Homo sapiens: one gene and its partners. The protein of the gene in region 1 purifies or fractionates together with the protein of each later gene. This does not show direct contact. Each region holds a gene or a part of one and is shown in the gene's direction. Other genes may lie near its edges. The genes, in order: UTP11, CRNN, THNSL1 and KLHL41.

Region 1 (7,038 bases):
AGTACTTTCTGTCATACTTTTTTCTCATACTGAGTACCACAAGTATAATAATAATAGTAAACTCATGCTGGAAAGCTGCTATGTGTCAAGCCATGTGCAGGCATTACCATTAATAGAAGCTCCTTGAATCCTCAGTATAACCCGGAGAAGCAGGTACTATTTTCATGTTACAGTCAGGAAATAGCAGCTCAGAGAAGTTAAGTGACATGCCCAAGGTCACAGATTGTTCAGAGGTAAAGCTTGGATTTGAACCCACATCTCCAGACTCTAAATTTAGCTCCCTTACCACAGTTGCCTCCCTGTTACTATGTTTTCCCTTTGTAGTATTTTATAAACCCTTGGATTAAGTTGGTAGTAATTTTAGTACAACTGGCAACTGCTTGCTTAGTGCCGAGTCATTGTTGCCTCTCTCTGTCCTTAATAGGCCAAGAAACCTACTACAGCAGTGCTTGTGACCTGTCTGGTGCTGGCAGGGTCCCTCTCATCCTTGGGCAGAGCCCAGTTGTGGGGAGGGGAGGGAACAGGGTCATGGGTTAGCTCCAAGGACTGGATTTACTGAGCACTCCAGAGACTCCTGTGCCTGTTAGATGTCGTGTTGATTTGGATATGTGTTTGCGGAGGAAACTAAGCACTGTTGTTCTTTCTTTTGTCTTCTAGCCTGGCTTTCGAAAACATCTGGGCCTGCTGGAGAAAAAGAAAGATTACAAACTTCGTGCAGAGTGAGTTCAGTCTTTCTGGTAGAGGCGCTGCCAAGAAAGCTTACAACCTCCTTGCACTGCAGCTGAATTGCCTGAGTGTCCAACAGGGGATAATTTCCTGCCATTGATAAAATGGCCAAAGCTCTGGCAGCCTGTCAGATAATTTTTTCTGTGATCCTAAATTTCTCTCTTTGTTTAGGCAGATCATTATTTATTTAACTGTAGTTGCATTGTGAATTATTTGTATTATGTTGTTCCAGATCATTTTCTCATAGTGGCTTTGATTTGGCTCTGCCTTGGTGTTTGAGCCCAAAGTTGAATCTTTTTCTCTTTGTTTTCTTGAAGTGCAGGATATAATCTGAAATTCCATTTGTTGAGTCTCTTACATCACCATGTGTGTGATGTGGAATGAAGAGATGTGAAAGATGGATTCATGAGACCAAGCGTGGGTGATAATGAACTCTGAAAACATTTTATAAAACAATTATCCCCATTCTTGTTCTCTGTTAGCACTTTGTTTGCAAAATACTTCTTAATTATTTGTTAGCGATACATGTCAGCTGAGGTCCTTTTTATGCCCCTGGTCTAGATGGTGGTGATGGATTAAATGGGTTTCTGTAGGTCCCAGAGATTTTAAGGCTAATGATAATTAAGTATTGTTATTGGGCCAGGCAGTGTTCTAGGATATTTACCGTTTTTACACTGATTTGTCCCTCCCAACAACCTTCTGGGATGGGTTACTATTACCGTATTCATTTTACAAATGAAATTGGGATTCAGGATGGTTAAATAACTTATCCAAGGTTACTTAGCCAGAAGTTGTCAAGTCCAGATTTGAACCCATGCTGTCTGGCTCCAGAGTCCATGATTCTAGTCATTGCGCTATACTGTACTGTGTAGTTTCTGAATTACATATGGTCATTTGGTGCCCAAGCTTGCACCATATCCTAAGGAGTTTTAATTTGTACTTTGTTTGGTGTCTCCCTGTAATGATATAAATGGCACTGAAACATATATAGGCTGGGGACAGTTAATTTCAGGTTCCACTGGAATAGGAACTGTTGATTAGACTGTGGACCCTGCGAAGACATGAGCTCAGCTCAGTGACAGTGGAGTGTCCAGATCCAGTCAGTGCTTTTGGCTTTTTTGAGTTTCACTCTGTGTGACCTTTTAGATGCTTGTAAAGTTTGCTTATTGTGGGTTTTTGGTTTTTTAAAATTATCTATTTTTTTTTTTTTGCTATGAACCTCATTTAACCTGTCTTTTAGTGACTACCGTAAAAAACAAGAATACCTCAAAGCTCTTCGGAAGAAGGCTCTTGAAAAAAATCCAGATGAATTCTACTACAAAATGACTCGGGTTAAACTCCAGGTGGGTGCCCAATGGCTTGGTTGGTGTTTTGAGCTCCACACATTGGAAAATAAGGACAGGGAGGAGATGGAGAGGAAGAATCGTTGGCCTTAATTTAACCCTTCTCTGGTTACTCCAGGTGCTCTTGGTCAGTGTCCAAGGCAAACCCTCCACTTCCAGAGGAGCGTGCATTTTTACCTTTGAATCTGGGTTGTCTTATACCTGGAGCTGTTCTAGGACAGATGACTGGAGGTGCTACATTGAACGTACGCCTCAGGGGCCTGTGTCTAGGATTGCTGTTAGCATACAGCATTTGGTTGTCTTTTTGTTTTTTTTTTTGAGATGGACTCACTCTCTGTTGCCCAGGCTGGAGTGCAGTGGTGCGACCTCGGCTCCCTGCAACCTCTGCCTCCCGGGTTCAAGTGATTCTCGTGCCTCAGCCTCTCGAGTAGCTGAACTACAGGCACACACTACTGTGCCCGGCTAAGTTTTTGTATTTTTAGTAGAGACGGGGTTTCACCATGTTGGTCAGGCTGGTCTTGAACTCCTGACCTCAAGTGATCTGCCCATCTCGGTCTCCCAAAGTGCTGGGATTACAGGTGTGAGTGACCGCACTTGGCCTATGGTTGTCTTTGTTCTAGCCGTGCACTGTGCCAACAACTTATTAATGATTTTAATCTAATAGGGAATATATCTTTTAAATTTGGATTTTAGGATGGAGTACATATTATTAAGGAGACTAAGGAAGAAGTAACCCCAGAACAACTAAAGCTGATGAGAACTCAGGACGTCAAATATATAGAAATGAAGAGGGTTGCAGAAGCTAAGGTAATTCACTCTTTGTTCTGATTGGTTTTATTGGTTAAGAAGGGAAACTTAAATTCATCAATCTCAAGTTATTCATTAATTTCTTCTGGCATTTACAATCTCACTTGATTGTAATAATGATTTAGAAGTATAGTTAGCATGGTAGAGTGGAAAGAGTTCAGGTTTGGGAATGAGACAGACCTAGGGTTTGAGTTCTGGCACTGCCATAAATTACTAGCCCCATGACAATGGGCAAATTCAACTCCCTGAGGCTCTTCCCTCATTTCTGTCTCAGGCGACTGTTGCAGGGATTAAGTGCGTCTTGGGAAGTGCCTAGCCCAATACCTGATATTTGTTGGGATCCTTTCCTTTAAAAGAATAAAGCAAGTTCTTTGCTGGCTGGCAATAATGATGTGAAATGGTTTAAACTTTTGCAGTTTTTTTTTTTTTTTGGTACCCTAGAAGAATCTAATATAAAGTGAGACCATATTCTGTGTTCTAGAAAATCGAAAGACTAAAATCAGAGCTCCATCTGCTGGATTTCCAGGGGAAGCAACAGAACAAGCATGTGTTCTTTTTTGACACCAAAAAGGAAGGTATGAAATGTTTGAAGGTTTCTGGGACAGTCTACCATGCCAGTCTGTGTCATTTGGTGTTAGAAACCGACAGTGCCTTAAGGATTGTCTTGAATTTTAGTTGAACAGTTTGATGTCGCAACTCACCTGCAAACAGCCCCGGAGCTAGTCGACAGAGTCTTTAATAGGCCCAGGATAGAGACCTTGCAGAAAGAAAAAGTGAAAGGAGTTACCAATCAGACTGGACTTAAGGTAATTTTCTCTGTTGTTCTTCACATGTGAGCTTAGGGGAATCTAGGTGTTTTTTTTTTGTTTTTTTTTTTTTGCTACTGCATTTAAAATAATTTTTAAAATTTATTTTATTTTATTTTTTAGTCAGAGTCTCACTGTCTCCCAGGCTGGAGTGCAGTGGCACGATCTCGGCTCACTGCAACCTCCGCCTCCTGGGTTCAAGCAATTCTCATGCCTCAGCCTCCCCAGTAACTGGGACTATAGGGGTGCAACACCACACCCAGCTTATTTCTGTATTTTTCATAGAGATGGGGTTTCGCCATGTTGGCCAGGCTGGTCTTGAACTCCTGACCTCAGTTGATCTGCCTGCCTTGGCCTCCCAAAGTGTCGGGATTACAAGCGTGAGCCACTGTGCCTGGCCTAAAATAATTATTTATTTATGGAAAACTCATGAGTTCCCTTAGAAAAGTGGATTTGTAGGATGATTTGATGATGGGATGGAAGTGGAGAAGGGCTTCCTAATTTCTATGATCGGAGGAGGTATAGTGGTCAGAAGCTTAGGTTCTGGCCTTTAGACCTGGGTTTGAATCCCAATTCTGACCCTGCGCTTTGTGCTTTTAATACTTGTAACAGATGCCAGTGTTTTGAAAATGCAGAGAAAGGGATTGCTGAAGATTAAAGGATTTGCAATACTTTAATATTGAACCTTTAGCAGTGAATACGCACATCAAAAGGTCTTTCTGTGTTTTTATTTTTCTTGAGACAGGGTCTCACTGTCACCCAGGCTGGAGTGCAATGGTGTGATTATGGCTCACTGCAGTCTCCACCTTCTGGGCTTAAGCGATCCTCCTGCCTCAGCCTCCTGGGTAGCTGGGACCACAGGTGTGTGCCACCATGCCTAGCTAATTTTAAATTTTTTTTGTAGAAACGGGGTCTCGCTAAGTTGCCCAGGCTGGTCTTAAACTCCTGAGCTCAAGTGTTTACTCCCGCCTTGGCCTCCTGAAGTGTTGGGATTACAGGCGTGAGCCACCATGCCTGCCCAAAAGGTCTTTCATATTGTGTATTGTAACAAAAATTTTGTTTTGGCTTTTCCTTATGGTGCTTTCCGTCACTGTAACTGGGTTGTGCAGAAGACATGCTTTTCCTGAAAGCCTTCTGGAGTTGAACTCTTCTGACTGATTCATTAAAAAAAAATGCTGTCAATGTGTTTCAAGCAGACAGCTGTTCTGTTTTGATTTGAATCATTTACACTGCATCAGTTTTGCTTCCAATGTTTAATTTCACAGCAGTTTTCTCTAGCTCAGAGGCAGCTAAACTTGCTTTAGTAATATAAATACCCCTAATTAGTTTGACTATATTGGGTAATCCCATAAATCTGACAGTCTGTGCAATAAAGCGAAAACAAAAGCTGTCTGAAACCACTGCTGTGAGACTGTGCTAGAATCTGTGAATTGTTGAAGTCTAAGGCCCAGTAATATTTCCTTCTGTAGATAACACTTCCAGCCAAAGAGCTTGCTCATGAGTGTTCTTGTGATAACCCTGTTGTTTGTCAATTAGGTGTACTTTTTTTTTTTTTTGAGACGGAGTCTCACTCTGTCACCCAGGCTGGAGTGCGGTGGCGTGATATCGGCTCACTGCAACCTCTGCCTCCTGGGTTCAAGCAATTCTCTTGCCTCAGCCTCCCGAGTAGCTGGGATTACAGGTGCCCGCCACCACGCCTGGCTAATTTTTTGTATATTTAGTAGAGACAGGGTTTCACCATTTTGGCTAGGCTGGTCTTGAACTCCTGACCTTGTGATCCACCCACCTCAGCCTCCCAAAGTGCAGGGATTACAGGCGTGAGCTACCGCGCCCGGCAATTAGGTGTACTTTCAATTAGCCGTGTCACTGACGCTTCTCAAGAATTGTGGTAGTCCCTAAAGAGATTAGTATTCCAAATTCCCATGTAGAATAGTTCACCAGCATAGCTTTTGAGAAGTTAGGGAGGTTTAGATTTTTGCCATTTTTGTCTAGTAATTATGTTTCTTTCTATTTTGTTTACTGCAAAATCATTTTTATTAAGAGACTGCTGGTGGGTGGATTGCAAGGATATTTTGTCTGTAACTTCGAGTGGGTAGACAACCCATGAGTGAGCTTTAGGAGGTCTGAGAAAACCCCCCTTTCTCACTGGTATTTTGTGCAGATAGGTATATGTGCTTGCACAACCTTTTACAAATGTGTATGTACATTTATCTCAAGAAACATCCCATGCTGGGCGTGGTGGCTCATGCCTGTAGTCCCAGCAATTTGGGAGGCCAAGGCAGGTGGATCACTTGAGGTCAGGAGTTCGAGACTAGCCTGGCCAATGTAGTGAAACCCTGTCTCTACTAAAAATACAAAAATTAGCCAGGCGTGGTGGCGGGCACCTGTAATCCCAGCTACTAGGGAGGCTGAGGCAGCAGAATTGCTTGAACCCAGGAGGCGGAGGTTGTAGCGAGCCGAGATAGTGCCACTGCACTCCAGCCTGGGCGACAGAGCAAGACTCCGCCTCAGAAAAAAAAAAAAAAGAAGAAAGATCCCAAAGCTTTCATCAGTTTCTCTGAGGTTGATGATTCCCCAAAATGTAAGGACCCCACTGATCTTTGAGGAGTCATTAGCAGTGAGAATTCTCAGGTGAGCTTCTGCTGAAAAAATTCTTCTGCTTTCTGAGTGGTAAGATTTTCAGGCACCAGCACACTGCCTGGGGACCCTTCTGTTGCCGACTCTTCTGTTGCTCTCCATTCACTTTGTATAGGGTTTCCAACACTGATTCATTCCTGCCATCATCTCAGGTGACTGTGGCACTCACACAAAGGTTGAAGCAGCTTAGTGTAGTAGTGGAAAGATTCCTGGGATTTGTGAGAGGGGGACGGTCCTGACTCTGCTCCAGGTGAGCTGTGTGTCCTTGGACCACTTCTTCTCTGGGCCTCATTTTTCTGCGTTTGTAAATGACGGGTTTCGATAAGATAGTCTACAGGGTTCCTTTTTTAATTTTTAATTTTTTTTTTTTGAGACAGAGTCTCATTATGTTGCCTACGTTGGTCTGGAACTCCTGGGCTCAAGTGACCCTCCCTCCTCAGCCTCCCAAAGTGCTGGGATTACTGGCGTGAGCCACTGCGTCTGGCCCAGGGTTCCTTTCAGCTCCAGAATGTGATGTTCCTAAAATGGGCAACGTTATTGTTACCACGTTATGTTGATTCTGGTGAAAGAAGGGAGTTGATGAAACTATGCAGTTGGCTTAAATGGATTAAGAAACAGTTTCTTACTCATTTTTGTCCTGTTCATTGTTCACTGAGAATGTGTGTGTTTCTTCTCCAGCGAATAGCTAAAGAAAGGCAAAAGCAGTATAACTGCCTGAC
Region 2 (2,559 bases), about 110 Mb from region 1:
GGGCAAGGTGCCAAGGGCAGCCCAGACAGTCAACTTGAGAGCCCAAACAGTTGCATTGTGAATTCAATAATTTATTAACTCTTCAATAAATCTTTATCTAATTTTCCTGTAGCCCAGAAATTGTGCCAAATAGAGGCTACCAAACAAAAAATGCTCTCTACACTTGAGGGAGAGAGACGGGACTAAAAAAAAATAAAGGCAATTAAGTCTTGCTGCTGCTCTAGCCGTATGTGTGTGTAGTGTGGGGTCTGAGGCAGGGGAAGCTGGCAGCAGATTGGAAGGGACCTGCCCATGTCCTCCTCAGGGGAGGGATGCTGACTCCACCTCATCTTCTCCTCAGAAACCCCACGATCCAGCAACTGTGGATGAGGTCCTGCGTCTGCTGGATGAAGACCACACAGGGACTGTGGAATTCAAGGAATTCCTGGTCTTAGTGTTTAAAGTTGCCCAGGCCTGTTTCAAGACACTGAGCGAGAGTGCTGAGGGAGCCTGCGGCTCTCAAGAGTCTGGAAGCCTCCACTCTGGGGCCTCGCAGGAGCTGGGCGAAGGACAGAGAAGTGGCACTGAAGTGGGAAGGGCGGGGAAAGGGCAGCATTATGAGGGGAGCAGCCACAGACAGAGCCAGCAGGGTTCCAGAGGGCAGAACAGGCCTGGGGTTCAGACCCAGGGTCAGGCCACTGGCTCTGCGTGGGTCAGCAGCTATGACAGGCAAGCTGAGTCCCAGAGCCAGGAAAGAATAAGCCCGCAGATACAACTCTCTGGGCAGACAGAGCAGACCCAGAAAGCTGGAGAAGGCAAGAGGAATCAGACAACAGAGATGAGGCCAGAGAGACAGCCACAGACCAGGGAACAGGACAGAGCCCACCAGACAGGTGAGACTGTGACTGGATCTGGAACTCAGACCCAGGCAGGTGCCACCCAGACTGTGGAGCAGGACAGCAGCCACCAGACAGGAAGAACCAGCAAGCAGACACAGGAGGCCACCAATGACCAGAACAGAGGGACTGAGACCCACGGTCAAGGCAGGAGCCAGACCAGCCAGGCTGTGACAGGAGGACATGCTCAGATACAGGCAGGGACACACACCCAGACACCCACCCAGACCGTGGAGCAGGACAGCAGCCACCAGACAGGAAGCACCAGCACCCAGACACAGGAGTCCACCAATGGCCAGAACAGAGGGACTGAGATCCACGGTCAAGGCAGGAGCCAGACCAGCCAGGCTGTGACAGGAGGACACACTCAGATACAGGCAGGGTCACACACCGAGACTGTGGAGCAGGACAGAAGCCAAACTGTAAGCCACGGAGGGGCTAGAGAACAGGGACAGACCCAGACGCAGCCAGGCAGTGGTCAAAGATGGATGCAAGTGAGCAACCCTGAGGCAGGAGAGACAGTACCGGGAGGACAGGCCCAGACTGGGGCAAGCACTGAGTCAGGAAGGCAGGAGTGGAGCAGCACTCACCCAAGGCGCTGTGTGACAGAAGGGCAGGGAGACAGACAGCCCACAGTGGTTGGTGAGGAATGGGTTGATGACCACTCAAGGGAGACAGTGATCCTCAGGCTGGACCAGGGCAACTTGCATACCAGTGTTTCCTCAGCACAGGGCCAGGATGCAGCCCAGTCAGAAGAGAAGCGAGGCATCACAGCTAGAGAGCTGTATTCCTACTTGAGAAGCACCAAGCCATGACTTCCCCGACTCCAATGTCCAGTACTGGAAGAAGACAGCTGGAGAGAGTTTGGCTTGTCCTGCATGGCCAATCCAGTGGGTGCATCCCTGGACATCAGCTCTTCATTATGCAGCTTCCCTTTTAGGTCTTTCTCAATGAGATAATTTCTGCAAGGAGCTTTCTATCCTGAACTCTTCTTTCTTACCTGCTTTGCGGTGCAGACCCTCTCAGGAGCAGGAAGACTCAGAGCAAGTCACCCCTTTGTACTGAATTGTCCTCATCTTGTGGGGGGTTTCAGGACTATTTTTATCTCTGACATCTCTCTATTGCCCCATCTACCCTAATGCATCAATAAAACCTTAAGCCACTGGCCTCTGTGTCTCATTCAACCACCTTCTATTGATATTACAGGCCAAAGGCTGTAGAGTTATGAGATGATGAACTGGACATAGTCCCTACCTTTGAAGAGCAACTAGTTGAGAAAATATTATATGAGATTCCTGCTATATATCATACTTAATACTTGGCAGAGATGGACCAGCAAAGGTTTCATACAAAAGGCGCTTTCTTTATGATGGCCCTGAAAAGACAATTAGTATTTAGATAGATAGGCAAAATTCCTCTTGGTCTTTCACTACCTCTAATTCTATAGCGTTAAACCGCTATTCACCTGTAAGGTCACACAGGAAAGCTGATTTAAGATTACCAAGAAATGGAAGAAGGCCCCCAGTGGCTGTGTAGGGAAAGAGCGAGAAAGCTTGTGTTACCAGGTACTGAGCCAGGGGCCAGAATTTTGTGCTTCCCTTCCTACCTCCCCCTCAGTGTCAGCTCTGACCTCTCATGATGTCTCACCCACCAGATATAAACCATGTTATGGGGTAGAGACTAT
Region 3 (7,683 bases), on another chromosome or scaffold:
CTCCCATCACAGGCCCAGAGACCTAGGAGAAAAAATGGTTTCATGGGCTGGGCCCAGGGCCTTGCTGCTTTGTGCAATCTTGGGACTTGGTGCCCTGAGTCACAGCCATGGCTAAAAGGGGACAACGTAGAGCTCAGGCCATTGCTTCAGAGGGTGCGAGCCCCAAGCCTTGGTGGCTTCCACATGGTGTTGGGACTACGGGTGCACAGAAGTCAAGAATTGAGGTTTGGGAACCTCCACCTAGATTTCAAAGGTTGTATCAAAATGTCTGGATGTCTAGGCAAAGATGTGCTTCGGGGCAGAGCCCTCATGGAGAACCTCTGCTAGGGCAGTGTGGAAGGGAAATATGGGGTGGGAGCCCCCCACACAGAATTCCCACTGGGGCACTGCCTAGTGGAGCTGTGAGAAGAGGGCCACTGTTCTCCAGACCTCAGAATGGTAAATCCACTGAGAGCATGCACCATGCACCCAGAAAAGCTGCAGACACTCAATGCCCACCCATGAAAGCAGCCGGAATGGGGGCTGTACTGTGCCAGGTCACAGGGACAGAGCTGCCCAAGACCATAGGATCCCACCTCTTGCATCAGCGTGACCTGGATGTGAGACATGGAGTCAAAGGAGATCATTTTGGAACTTTAAGGTTTAATGACTGCCCTATTAGAATCTGGACTTGCAAGGGGCCTATAGCCCCTTTGTTTTGGCCAATTTCTGCTATTTCGAATGGTTATATTTACCCAATGCCTGGACCCCCATTGTATCTGGGAAGTACCTAACTTGCTTTTGATTTTATATGCTTGTAGGCAGAAGGGACTTGCCTGGTCTCAAATGAGACTTTGAACTGTGGACTTCTGAGTTAATGCTGAAATGAGTTAAGACTTTGGGGGACTGTTGGGAAGGTATGATTGGTTTTGAAATGTGAGGACATGAGATCTGGGAGGGGCTGGGGTAGAATGATATGGTTTGGCTGCATCCCCACGCAAATCTCACATTAAATTGATGAGATCCCATAATTCCCATATGTCATGGGAGGGATCTGGTGATAGGTAATTGAATCATGGGAGTGGGTCTTTCCTGTGCTGCTCTCATGATAGTGAATAAGTCTCATGAGATCTGATGGTTTTATAAAGGGGAGTTCCCCTGCACACACTCTCTTTCCTGCCACCATGTAAGATGTGACTTTGCTCCGCCTTTGCCTTCTGCCATGATTGTAAGGCTTCCTCAGCCATGTGAAACTGTGAGTCAATTAAACTTCTTTTGAAATATAAATTACCCAGTCTCGAGTATGTCTTTATTAGCAGCGTGAGAACAGACTAATATACTATGTTCTATGATAGATAAGAGATATAAAAGACATATTTATTAAATTTGCAAATGACACAAAAAGAATGGTTAACAGAATGTATAAAAGATTCAAATGCAAAACTATCTCCATAGATTAATGAGTTGAGATAAAAAAGAATCAGCTACATAATTAGAGGATGGGAGAGACCAACCTTAGTCAAAATCCATACAGGGTATTTTAGTGTGAGCCAATAGTTGGACATGACTGTCAAAATGCTTATGGAAGCTTAGGCTGAATGGATGAAAATATTGTGCCAAGAATTATGGAAAGGAGATAATGGTTTCATGGACTGTTCAGACCATAACTGGAATATTGCTTTAAACAAAATGGAAAGAGGGGATGACTGGAGATATTCAATAACTGCAGACATCAATAAAGGGTGATAGGCCAGGCGTGGTGGCTCACGCCTATAATCATAGCACTTTGGGAGGCAGAGGTGGGTGGATTACTGGAGGTCAGGAGGTCAAGACCAGCCTGGCCACCATGGTGAAACCCCATCCCTACTAAAAATACAAAATTAGCCAGGCATGGTAGCAGGGACCTGTAATCCCAGCTACTCGGGAGGCTGAGGCAGGAGAATCGCTTGAACCCAGGAGGCAGAAGCTGCAGTGAGCCAAGATGGCGCCATTGCACTCCAGCCTGGGCAAAAAGAGTGAAACTCCGTCTTGAAAAAAAAGTAATTAAAAAAAAAAGGGTGACAGATTTGGTGAAAATCTTGGAAACCATCTTATGCATCATGAGTAACTCAAATTTTGAAAACTGAATCATGACTTCCCATTGACTCTGAGGCTTTCATAACTTAAGTCTCAGCCAATAGTTCAACTGCAGAAAAGTGCCTTTCATCCGATTTTGGTCACATACATTCATCTTCTAAGTTCTCATTTAGTATCTTCATCTCTCATTATGGTTTTCAATGATAAATTTTAGTGTTCATATTTCAGTTCCCCAAAAAGACGGTAAACTCTGAGGCGTGGGAGATCAAAAGCCAGGCAGTTGTCAGAATCTTGCCAGTGTAAATTGACTTTAACCTAACAGAAATGATTCTTTTGGCATCACATTTGGGTGCCTCTATTTCCTCTAATCATAAATCTTTCTTCTACTCATTTCTTCATAGTAAAACCAAGAAGTCTGTGCTATCACTCCAACAGCACCAAGAACAGATATACTAGTGCAATATTATACACATAATAGGGGCTCCATTAATGCTTGCCAAATGAATAAAGACTGTTCCTATAAATTTTTTTTGAAAAAAAAAATCGTCTAGATGCAGTAAAGCTTTTTAATTTGCCAAAGAACAGAATACCTACCTAATAAAATAACTCTCAAATTCAATATTCTATAGAAATACAATCTACCAATCTGTTATAGAGGAGTTTTATCTCATGTAATATGCAGGAATTTGAAACCAAAAGTTGGTGCAACAATAGAAAATTTGAAAATAAATTCTGCAACTGTGCCATAACTTACTTTACATTCCTCTTTCCAGTCTCTAGATGTTGATATGCTAATGGAGATGTAATACAGTTACTGCTCTAATTTAAACCAGATACTTAAAATTGAAGAAGCTGCCTACTTGTTGAAGCTATTACCCTAATACTAGTAAAAATAATTGACCATTAGATCTAAAAGGGGCCTTGGATATTATCTGGTACATTTATCTCACAGATCAGTAAACAAATGAAACTTTATTCTAAAGTTCACAAAGACAATTAATTGCTAGGCCCGATTTTTAGTCCAGTCCTTTTCAAATGTGGTTTTGACTTGCATACGGACAAGGATGATGGTAAAAGACAGGAAACATTTCAAGTCCTAGGAGAAATGAGATTTTCTCCACTACTTTCTTTGCTCCCCACAGATTTAAGTAAGTTCTAAGAAGTCCCTACAGATGGGAGTAACTGAAGTGCTTCCTTTGCACGTTTTTGAGATTTGGAGAATTTAAGAGGTTCTAAGACCTATGTAAAATTTCAACTCAATTACATATTTTTTGGTTCATTATCTATCCACCAATTCTTCCTTCCATTTAAACCATTAGATCTGAAAAAGTCCTTAGAAACTGCCTAATAGTGGTAGATATTTCGTTTCACTGATCAAAAACCTGAGGCTCAAAAGCAAATGTAAATTTATATTTCATAAAAATCTTGGGGGAAAAGTCCTATCCTATCCCATTAGAGAGGGAGTAGTGCAGTTAGAAATACAACACCGAACTCCTGAAACCAAACATCAAGTATCCTTAAACAAGATAATAGAATTGTGATTTTTTTCTTTTCAACATGAAACTTCATACTATGCTGTATATCACATATAATTAAATTACACAATAATCACATACCGTATTAATAAGAGGTTAAGTGTAATATAATAAAATGGTCATCTCACAGCGCCAGACTGCCCTCTCTGTAAAACTGTGAGATGCTGAATACCTAGATATTTCGACCTTTTCTCTAACAAGTTATCCTCCAAGGCTACTTCATCGAGGCAAAAATACATTTTATTTATTATTAAAAATTCCAGTATATGTATGCTTAATTAATACTGAGTATTCCCCATTCTTGTTTCAAGTGATAGTCTTTGCTTATCCACATACCTAGGAGGCTGGGGAGGCTCCTTCAAGTCACTGGGTATGAGGTTATAAATGCACTCAGAAGAGCACGTTGGATCCATGGCCACCAAATGACTCCTTAAAAGCTACTCTCCACAACTTTTTTCTCCCTGTCCCAGTATCTCCGTCCCTTTCTTCACTGCTTCCCCTTTCTTTCTTCTTCGCCTTCTGAAGGACCACAGGTTCTCTCCTTCACATCGTCCCCCTTTAACCCCCTCTTAGCAGTCCTCTCTCGGGAAGAAAACACCCTATTTCTCTCCGGATTGCTAAGCGTCGTTGACTGTGCGGTTGCCGTGGAAACCGTTACTAGGCAACGAGGAAGTGGCAGGCAGCACCGCAAACTAGGTCTCCCCTCTTCCCTCTTTCTGCAGCGCCTTCTGCTAGAGAAGCTCATTTGGAAGCCACTGTTTTTACGTGCCTTTGAAAGTTAACGGGGTGAAAATGATGTCCCCTTAAAAACTGTGCTCTTTTCTATTTCTGTGTATCTGGGGAAAAAAGAAAAATCCTAGTAGAGACGGCAAAGCGCAGCTGGTGCGCAGGCGTCACCCAATAAGGTTTTTGTGAGCAGGCCCCAATCGCGGTGTGGGCGGAGCGAGCGGCTGAGACCACGAGGACGCAAGGCCAGCGCCGCCAGGGAGACGAGGGAGGGGAGGAGCCTGAGGAGATCGGAGTGCTCGGATAGGCTACAGTGAGAAAGGAGAGTCACGTGCCCTGCGCGAGGCCGCTCGGGGAAGGGCGTGGAGCGGAGGCACGCTGGCCGCCGCAGGCACAGGCGCAGAGTCCACTGCGCGGGGGCGGGACCGGGGAGCTAGCTGCAGGTACGGTGCTCCGTCTCCTGTGGAGGCTTTAGCGGCTCGTGGACACTGCTCCCCCATTTCCTTTCATTTCCCCCGTCTTCTCAGTGAGATTTCCTTGGTGAGTTATTGGAGGAGAAAGGAAGGAAAACTAGAAGCCAGCCCGCTCCCATCGCATGCCTTTCCCCGTACCGTCCCTTCCCCTTTCCGCTACTCGCTGGTCATCTCAACTCTGCGCGCATTTTTCCTGCTGCTTCTGGTCGAGGCTCCTCGGAACGCCGCGCAGCCCTGCCCGCCACGTGTGTGAGTGCGCGCACGGGGCCCGCGGCCTCCTCCGCCTGCTGCGCTCGCCCTCCCGCCCCTGCTCCCGGGACCGCCCCTTGGGCGGTCCTCCGGGTCGGCTCTGCGCCTGCTCTTCCCCGGGTCGGGACTCTTCCTCTAGGTCGTTCTCCAGGAACCAGTGGACCTGCTCTTTGTAAATGAGCAGCCTAAACTAAGAGGAGAAGCCTTTTAAGTGGGCCTTTACGTTTTTGTCCAGTTTTTGGTGTCCCTTGTTGGAAAATTGTCTTCTGAGAAGCGGTTTTATTCCTTTTTGTTCCACCTGGTCACCCGTAAATCTATGCACATGGGCCTGCCGTAGGAAAGTCATTTAGACGCTTTTACCCGAGTGTTTAAAAGACATTTTGGTAATAGGATTTGGGGAGGAAGATGGATGCCTCTGAACCACCGGTACAGAGGCCACTCTGCCCGAAGGAAATAAAGCTTCCCGGAGAGGAGAGAAAACACACTTGAGTCTGGGTTTCTCACTGCCTGGTTGGCTGGCGGAGTGATTAAAACAACACAATGGCCTGGTGAACCTTTTAGTTCCTGTATAAAAAGGCTTTACTGAATGTGTAGGTCCTTACTTTGGGCTCTTACTGAATTTCACTACATAAGAATACGTTAAGTTTTTCTTTTTTTTTTTTTTGTATACAGTTGATTTTAATTTTTGTCCCAGACGCTTAGGGAAAATTCTCCAGATTTCTTCACATCAGATTGTCTTCCAAAACATTTTAGATAGATGGATCTGTAGATCTATATTTAGATCTAGATCCAAATCTATATCACTTTGCCCCTTTCTTTTCGCCCTTGAGTATTTTATGTTTGGGATTTCTGTTTAGCAAGTATAGAGAAAAAATTTGGCGGGAAACCTCCTGTATGTACGAAGATTCGAACCAAGGACTCATGGAATGATAACGCCATTAGCCAAGTGGATAGTCACTGGCTAAAGCTTATGAATTTTCTAATTAGAAGGAACACCTTGAGACTATTTGTGTTAATCAGTTCCTGAAATAGCAAGTAAGGGCAAAACATGATTTCTGCAGTTAGCACCAACTGGCCTTTGGTAGCCTTGATGTTCTGGGGTTACTGAAATAAAATAATTTCACTGATGTCTGTATATTTATTATGCTTTAAAAAATGCTAAACAATTTGTGCAAGACCTCACTGTGGTATAGTTAGTTTACAGCCATGAGCAGGTTGTTAAATCATTTGGAAAAAAACTTTTCTTTTTTCTTAGACATTTGATCTGCAATTCTCCTTGCCTTTTGAAAGTGTGTTTAAGCAAAATTATTTCTAGTTTTTATAATGCTCTTGAAATGACACTTCAAAAAAATGCCTGTGTCCACCGCATGTCCACAGGGAATTAACTGGTATATACCTACAGGGATGAACAAACTGTCTATAAAGGGGTAGACAGTAAATATTTCAGGCCTTTTTAGGCCAAGTGGTTATGTTGCAACTACTCAGTTTTGCCATTGTAGCTCAAAAGCAGCCAAAGACGGTACTGAACAAATATGTGAGCACATGAATGACTGAAGTTGTGCTTCAAAGAAACTTGATTTATGAAAATGATGGTGGGCCAGATTTAGCCTGTGGATTGTAGTTTGCACAGATCCTAGATCCCCGTATATAATGGTATGCCTGTGATGTACATAAACAAATGAGAGTTGTTTTTTTTTTTTTTTTTTTTGCGAAGGATTATTTTAATCTATTTAAATGAATAAAATGGGTGTAGATGAGTATATAAGACAATTGGAAGGTAAATAAACCCTTTATAAAGACAGGTTCTTTATAATTCTCAAAGTTATAGAATTGTGGATACTAAAGTTTTCAATTAAATATTCGAGATCGTTAAGAATATGTCTAACAGCAGAAGTCTAACGGCAGAAAAAGCTTAGTCAGCTTTGATAGTAATATAAAGACTAAGTGATGAACTTGCAAAATTGTTTTAGTTGTGAGATCCTTGTGATTACAGAACTATACTGGATTGTGTGGTCCTTCCACCCTCACCTCTGTTTCATGGCAAGTGGGAGGCCCTCTGAATGAAAAGTTTGAGAGAATTTTTGGTCAGAAGTCAGAAGCAGTAGAGCTTAACCTCCTTTTGGCTAGTTTGTGTCCTGATACACAGTTAGTTCTCCATATCTGTGAATTTCCCATTCTCAGATTCAACTAATTACAGATTGAAAATATTTTAAAATTTTAGTTGGGCACAGTGGCTCATACCTGCAATCCAAGCACTTTTTGAAGGCCAAGGCAGGAAGACTGCTTGAGCCCAGGAGTTGGAGACCAGCCTGGGCAACATGGCGAAACCCCCTCTCTACTAAAAATACTAAAATTAGCTGGGTGTGGTGGTGCGTGCCTTTAGTCCCAGCTACTTGGGAGGCTGAGGTGGGAGGATTGCTTGAGCCTAGGAAGTCAAGGCTGTAGTGAGCCAAGATTGTGCCACTGCACTCCTGCCTGGGCAACAGAGTGGGAGCCTGTCTGAAAAACAAACAAAAACACGAAAATAATGGAACAGTAAAAATACCACAAACAAAAAAGCAAATTAGTACAACAGCTCTGTACCTAGCATTTGCATTGTATTATGTATTATAAGTTATTCAGAGATTAAGGTATACAGGAGGATG
Region 4 (7,038 bases), on another chromosome or scaffold:
ACACAGGCTGGAGTACAGATTTTCTATAATGTACATATATTATTTTTATAATTAGAAAAAAATCGGCTAATTTTTTGTATTTTTAGTAGAGATGGGGTTTCACCATGTTGGTCAGGCTGGTCTCGAACTCCTTACCTCAGGTGATCCACCCACCTAGGCCTGCCAAAGTGCTAGGATTACAGGCATGAGCCACCGTGCCCGGCCTTAGGGTTGCCATATTGAAGGCTTTATATTTAATGAAGTTACATCTTTCAAATATTTTCTAGTAGCAAACTTAGTCATTTACTTTTAGATGCCTGTGCTCCTTGAATTTTTTTTTCCCCCCTTAAAGACAGGGTTTTGCTCTATCACCCAGGCTGGAATGCAGCAATGCGATCATAGCTCACCGCAGCCTTGACCTCAAGGGCTCAAGAGATCCTCCCAAGTAGCTGGGACTATAGGGACATACCACCAGGCCTAGCTCTGTGTGTGTGTGTGTGTGTGTGTGTGTGTGTGTGTGTGTGTGTGTGTGTGTGTGTGTAGACAGTCCATTTTGTTGCCCAGGCTGGTCTCATACTCCTTGGGCTCAAGCTATCCTCCTGCCTCAGTGTGTGTGTGTGTGTGTGTGTGTGTGTGTGTGTGTATGTGTGTGTGTGTGTGTGGAGGCAGTCCATTTTGTTGCCCAGGCTGGTCGCATACTCCTTGGGCTCAAGCAATCCTCCTGCCTCAGTCTCCCAAAGTGCTGGGATTACGGGCATGAGCCACCGAACCCAGCCGCTACTTGAATATTTATTTTTTATTTAGATGGAGTCTCGCTCTGTTGCCCAGGCTGGAGTACAGTTGCACAATCTCAGCTCACTGCAACCTCCGCCTCCCAGGTTCAAGTGATTCTCCTGCCACAGCCTCCCAAATAGCTGAAATTACAAGTGCGCGCCACCGTGCCTGGCTAATTTTTTGTATTTTTGGTAGAGGTGGGGTTTCACCATGTTGGTCAGGCTGGTCTCAAACTCCTGACCTCAGGTGATCTACCCGTCTCAGCCTCCCAAAGTGCTGGGATTACCGGCATGAGCCACCGCGCCTGGCTGCCTGGCCACTACTTGAATTTTTAAATTATTATTTCCTATAATTATTCAGTAAGTACATCTGGCATTTCTTTAAGTTTTACATTGACTATATTTTTAATGATACCTAGATGGGATGTAATGACCGAATTTCCCCAAGAAAGAAGCTCCATCAGTTTGGTCAGCCTGGCTGGATCTCTGTATGCAATTGGTGGTTTTGCTATGATTCAACTGGAGTCTAAAGAATTTGCACCCACTGAAGTCAATGACATATGGAAGTAAGTTCTCATCACTTCAATTTTCAGAATCACATATTAAATCAGATGACTGATAAACTATTTTGTAGTAAACAATAAGCCAGATTTTCCCAACATGCAAGCTACTTCTTGGTAGTAGACTAAACACTTCAAACCTAATTGAACTTCTGTACATGCCACTTACTTGAACAAGTATCTACTTCTAGTTAGCTCTGAGCCTGAGAAAGAAATCATCTGGGCAGGCCTGTTTCTTACTGTAAAATGAGAGTTGGACCTTTGATACTCTCAGTTTCATTCCAGCTCTAAGAGTATAATGCTATAGGCATCCAGTAGAGTGAAAGCCTCTTTGCTCCAGAGTAGTTTATTTCCTAACAAAACAGAGTTCTAAAAAAAATTTTATGTTTTTTACTTTTTTATTTTTATTTTTTTGAGACAGAGTTTCTGTCACCCAGGCTGGAGTACAATGGCGGGATCTCAGCTCACTGCAACCTCGGCCTCCCAGGTTCAAGTGATTCTCCTGCCTCAGCCTCCCGAGTAGCTGGGATTACAGGCATATCCACCACGCCCAGCTAATTTTTATATTTTTAGTAGAGACGGCATTTCGCCATGTTGGCCAGGCTGGTCTCGAACTCCTGACCTCAGGTGATCCACCCGCCTCAATCTCCCAAAGTGCTAGGATTACAGGCGTGAGCCACGTACCCAGCCTAAAGAAACATTTAACCTCTTGAGCTTTCCACTACTTCATTAGTTCTGTTTTCAATCTAATTTAAACAGCTTTCCAATTGTTTTAGGCTTCAGCTAATAAATGCTTTTTTAAAATGAAAAAAGTCAAAATAGCAATCCATTTTACCTGCCTGGAGGTGCCAGGCAGTTCTCCTAAGTATGACACTTGAAACTGTTACTCAATTGAACATTTTAGTGAGGCTATTAAAAAAAAAGTTTGTTTTTATTTTATTTTGAACTGAGATCGCGCCACTGCACTCCAGCCTCAGCTACAGAGCGAGTCTTAAAAGAAAAAAAAAAAAAGAAAAAAGAAACACAGAATCCCAGACCCTACTGAATGAGAATCTGTATTTTTTAACAAGATTCTTAGGTGAATTGTTTGCACATTTAAGTTTATAAGTACAGCTTTGGAAGAGTGCCATTTATACTTAATCAGTGAAGGCATACCACTAAGCCTGAGAGTGAAAAGTGGGTATTATTTGTTCTATACCTTAACCAGCAGATGCTTTATTCCCAGATGCTGAACTAAAAAGGCTGAAAAGCTGGTACCTTAACCAAACAATGATTTGTGCATTAGACATCATTTCCCCATGTTGTAATATTAACTAGCTGTGTAGAGGGCAAGAAAAAAAGTGGCTATGCAAGGAAATTAACTACTTTCCCTCCTCCCCCCAAAAAAGAGGGAGAAAGAGAAAAAAAATGAGATTTCCACGGAGCAAAGAGGCTAGAATTAGCAAAACAGTGAGATGGGGAAAAGCTGGAAGCAGTAGGAAAAAAGGATGAACTAATGAAGGCCGGGAAGGTTAGGGTTTTTTGGAAAACAGGGCCAGGTACCAAATATATAAATGGGCAGTGATTCTCAACCCTAGCTGTATGTTACAATCATCTGGGATGCTTTTAAAATATACCAGTGTCTGGGCCTTAACACAGACCAATTATATCAAAATTTCTGGAGGTAGAGTTGAGCATCCCTAGTTCCTAAAACCTTCCCAGTGATTTTTTTTTTTTTTTTTTTTTTTTTTTTTTTTGGTGAGACAGAGTCTCACTCTGTCACCCAGGCTGTAGTGCAGTGATGTGATCTTGGCTCATTGCAACCTCCAGCTCCTGGGTTCAAGCGATTCTCCTGCCTCAGGCTCTGGAGCAGCTGGGACTACAGGTGTGCACCACCATGCCCGGCTAATTTTTGTATTTTTAGTAGAGATGGGGTTTCACCATATTGGCCAGGCTGGTCTTGAACTCCTGACCTCAGGTGATCCACCCACCTCAGCCTCCCACAGTGCTGGGATTACAGGCGTCAGCCACCGAGCCCAGCCCCAGATGATTCTAATCAGCAGCCAGGGTTGAGAAACACTGATATTAAGTAATTGTGCTGTCAATCAGTGGGACCTCCCTGAAGCCCTCCTGGTTCCTAAGGGTTATCAAAAGCCATGCTGCCCCTGCAGGGAACAGTTACAGGCAGCAAAAGAAAGTACAGAATCTCCTGCTATAAAAGTGGCCCTGACATTGTTTAGGGAACCTAAAAGAGGGATCCTCTCTGATTGTGGTTTATTTTGCGATTAGAGCAGTGGTTCCCAAAGTTGCCTGCACGTTCGAATCACCAGGGTGCTTCAAAAAATATTAACACCTCTATCCCACTTATATTGACTGCAATTTAATTGGTCTGAAGTATGGCCTGGGCTTTGGAAATTTTAAAAGATCCATGGATGTTTCTATATGTGTAGACAAGTTTGGGAACCACTGGATTGGGTAAAGAGAAGAGGGGGGCATTCATCACTATCTGCTTGGCTATTTTGAGACTGGTATTTCCTAATTTGGGGTAGGATCTGGAGCATGATTCTCAAACTTTGCTGCATATTAGAAACACTTGGGGAGCTTTAAAAAATCCTGATGCCCAGGCCACCCTTCATACCAATTAACTCAATCTCTGAGAGTAGGACCTAGGCATCAGTATCTTTAACATCTCCAGCTGGTTCTATTGGCAATTAAGTTTGAGAACCTGTAATCTACTACAGTGGTTCCCAAAGCAGCATCAGCCTCACCTGGGTACTTATCAGAAAGGCAGATTCTCAGGTCTCACTTCAAATCTGTTAAATTAGAAACTCTGGGGGTGATAGGGCCAGCGATCTGTGTTTGCACAAACCCTCCAGGTGACTTAGATGTGTGTTAAAGTTGAAGGCCGCCGATCTAGAGAAACGTGGCTGCCTATTTGCCCTCAATTTCCTAGTGAACCTCCCTAACCACACATGCAGAGGTGAAAACTCTCAGTATACAACATTCTCAACATAGACCCTCTTACTATACGTAAAAAAAAAATTCCATTCTTGTATTTTTTTCTTGAAATCATTCCATTATTTAGGATTGACCAAGCTGAAAGTAAATATAACTGCCAGGAAGCAAACATTTTTAAACCTCATTTAACCTTAACCTCATATTGTTTAAATGTGGTCACTTTCTTTAGGTCATTTAAAACTATTATTTATCTCTTAATTTGTTGCCCTGAATTTTATGTAATTAAGGTTATTCCCTTTATTAGTAGCAAAATATTTTTTGTATGCTTTCCTCTACATAAAAATCAGTGCATGGTACAATTATTGAGAACTAATTTGGAACATTGATGAAATTAAGTCAGAGCATGTCTTATGTAGGTACAAGCTAATTTTAATAATTATTTTAAATCTCCATTCATCACAGAATGATTTGGGGTAAATCTTTTTTTTTTTTTTTTTTTTTTGAGATGGAGTCTTGCTGTGCAATCTTGACTCACTGCAACCTCCGCCTCCCGGGTTCAAGCAGTTCTCTTGCCTCAGCCTCCGGAGTAGCTAGGATTACAGACGCACACTACCATGCCTGGCTAATTTTTATATTTTTAGTAGAGACGGGGTTTTGCCATATTGGCCGGGCTGGTCTCAAACTCCTGATCTCAGGTGACCTGCCCCCCTCGGCCTCCCAAAGTGCTGGGATCACAGGTGTAAGCCACCACACCTGGCTGATTTGGGGTTGTCTTGTGCCAGGTCTTGACAATTTGTGGAGAGATATTAATATATTATTTGTCCTCAGATGCCTTTGAGGCTTGAGGACATTGATATGGGGGGGGGAATTAAAATGGAGTGATAATTGCTATAATACCATATAAAGGATGATATGAGAAAGAGAAAGCAACAAACTGTGCTTAAGGAAGGTGAGAAAGGTTTCAGAGAGAAGGCGGCATTTAGAAGCTTCCCACACAAAGAAAATATTCCAGGCACCAGGCAGAGCAGACATGTTCAGCACACATCGTACAAGGGAATTCAAGTTATCTGTATCTTTATAACCTTGAATATTCAGAGATGAAGACCAGTTCTTACCTAAGTCAAGTGCAAAGTCTAAGAGTAGTCCTCAAACAGAACAATAAAGGGGAAGGGGAACAAATTTTCATAAAGTGACAGCTGTGTATCAGGTGCCATGCTAGGCACTAGTGTATAGGAACAATTGAAGGCATAATTAAGTCTACCGATAGTCCCTGCTCTTCCTCAGTTCTTTCTCTTAAGCAAGAGTCTGCTTACTTTGACTCAGAGACCAGCCATCTTCATCAATTCAAAGGTGAATGAATGTTTAACTGCTTAGCTATTTATTCCTCTTCTCTGCAGTCTTTGATTCCCAGAGAATGCTGAACTGCCTAGGCATCCAGATTAAATACTGTGGCAGTAGTTCAGGCACATGCTCATCCAGACAATGCATATTTGGGAGATATTTAAGTTCTGTTCTACCAGGCAGGTGCATCTTCTTCTGAGTAAGAGCCACTAGGGTTTTTTCAAAGATCCACATTTGTATTCTGAACACAGGGAAACCTATGGAACTAAAGCTGCTTATTGATTACTTTTTTTTTCCTCCATCAGGTATGAAGATGATAAAAAAGAATGGGCTGGGATGTTGAAGGAAATACGTTATGCTTCAGGAGCTAGTTGCCTAGCAACACGTTTAAATCTCTTCAAACTGTCTAAACTGTGAACAAGGTGACAAAACATAATAGATTGGGAGGTGGTTTGTTTGGTGAATGGGGCTTTAATTTATTCTGTTTTTTAAAAGCTTGTACAGACACTCATGTAGAAATTATTCAAGAAGTTATTGTCTAAGAGATGAGCAGTAGGTAAGAAAACCTCAGTCATTGACTCTTCAATGTAATGATCAGAGTTTAAAACCATTTTCTAATAATAAATTAAATCTTCAGTTGAACAAATTATTTTGTGAATCTGTTTCACTCAATGGATTGTAAAGAAGGCTCCTAAATTTGAGTTGTTTGCTAATCATTTCATTTGCATCATTAGGGTATCCTTAAACTGATTTTCTATTACAATTGGAAGTGGAGAATATGTGCATCTACACTAAAAAAATGTTTAAGATATCAAAAACCTCTCCTCGTGCTTCAAAATGACAGGAATCCTGTGCATTATACTAAGAATTACATGCCATAAGATGACTTCAGAAATCCTACTTCAGAAGTGTAATAAATGGATGGGGAAATCGTTTGATGGGGAAAAGTCTCTTGTAAGTAAAAGTAGTCAAATTCAAATGGCCTTTTCTCTCCATTCTTTTTGCGACACTGGCGTATTATTTGTGGTTTCCAAATCAAATTTTTAAAATTTTAATTTAAAACCAGTAAATCACAGTCTTCAAGCCATTAACTACAGCATCTGTGGCAGGAGGGTGAGGGAGCACCCTTAGGAAATGGATTGATTCTTTAAACTGCTGGGACAGCAGTTGGGGTCAGTGGGTGATGTGGAGGAGGAAGTGTATTCACTGGTTTAAATTTTGGCTACACTCCATGAAAGGGCTACCTATTTGCTAAATTTCTGACAGCAAGGAAGGTGACTGTATTATTTCATTTTCTGGGATGTGATATCCTCCATTCACTGTTCCTTCTTAGTGCATATAGTAAGTTGACTCCTCAATCTGCTCATAACCATCACATTCAACTCTGTGCAAGTCATCAATTAATCATCACTTTTAGCCACACACCAACTTATGAGTCTCACATAGCT

The links.
Region 2: the proteins of UTP11 (region 1) and CRNN purify together in Homo sapiens (affinity purification with mass spectrometry; 3 studies listed by BioGRID and IntAct, with this or other methods). This does not show direct contact.
Region 3: the proteins of UTP11 (region 1) and THNSL1 purify together in Homo sapiens (affinity purification with mass spectrometry; 3 studies listed by BioGRID and IntAct, with this or other methods). This does not show direct contact.
Region 4: the proteins of UTP11 (region 1) and KLHL41 purify together in Homo sapiens (affinity purification with mass spectrometry; 3 studies listed by BioGRID and IntAct, with this or other methods). This does not show direct contact.

Annotation. Positions count from the first base shown.
Region 1 is NC_000001.11:38,015,702-38,022,739, forward strand, and holds part of UTP11 (probable U3 small nucleolar RNA-associated protein 11), read left to right. Parts: intron 1-657; coding exon 658-719; intron 720-1,966; coding exon 1,967-2,069; intron 2,070-2,762; coding exon 2,763-2,876; intron 2,877-3,357; coding exon 3,358-3,451; intron 3,452-3,551; coding exon 3,552-3,682; intron 3,683-6,997; coding exon 6,998-7,038. UniProt on the Homo sapiens protein: Part of the small subunit (SSU) processome, first precursor of the small eukaryotic ribosomal subunit.
Region 2 is NC_000001.11:152,408,725-152,411,283, reverse strand, and holds the end of CRNN (cornulin), read left to right. Parts: intron 1-340; coding exon 341-1,690; 3' UTR 1,691-2,041; downstream 2,042-2,559. UniProt on the Homo sapiens protein: Promotes cell proliferation, G1/S cell cycle progression and induces expression of the cell cycle regulator CCND1. Regulates proliferation induced by pro-inflammatory cytokine response via activation of NFKB1 and PI3K/AKT signaling pathways.
Region 3 is NC_000010.11:25,011,934-25,019,616, forward strand, and holds the start of THNSL1 (threonine synthase-like 1), read left to right. Parts: upstream 1-4,678; 5' UTR 4,679-4,759; exon of another isoform or gene 4,760-4,856; intron 4,857-7,683. Other genes in the region: ENKUR (enkurin), read right to left, coding at 3,927-4,003.
Region 4 is NC_000002.12:169,519,690-169,526,727, forward strand, and holds the end of KLHL41 (kelch-like protein 41), read left to right. Parts: intron 1-1,171; coding exon 1,172-1,318; intron 1,319-5,895; coding exon 5,896-6,007; 3' UTR 6,008-6,569; downstream 6,570-7,038. UniProt on the Homo sapiens protein: Involved in skeletal muscle development and differentiation. Regulates proliferation and differentiation of myoblasts and plays a role in myofibril assembly by promoting lateral fusion of adjacent thin fibrils into mature, wide myofibrils.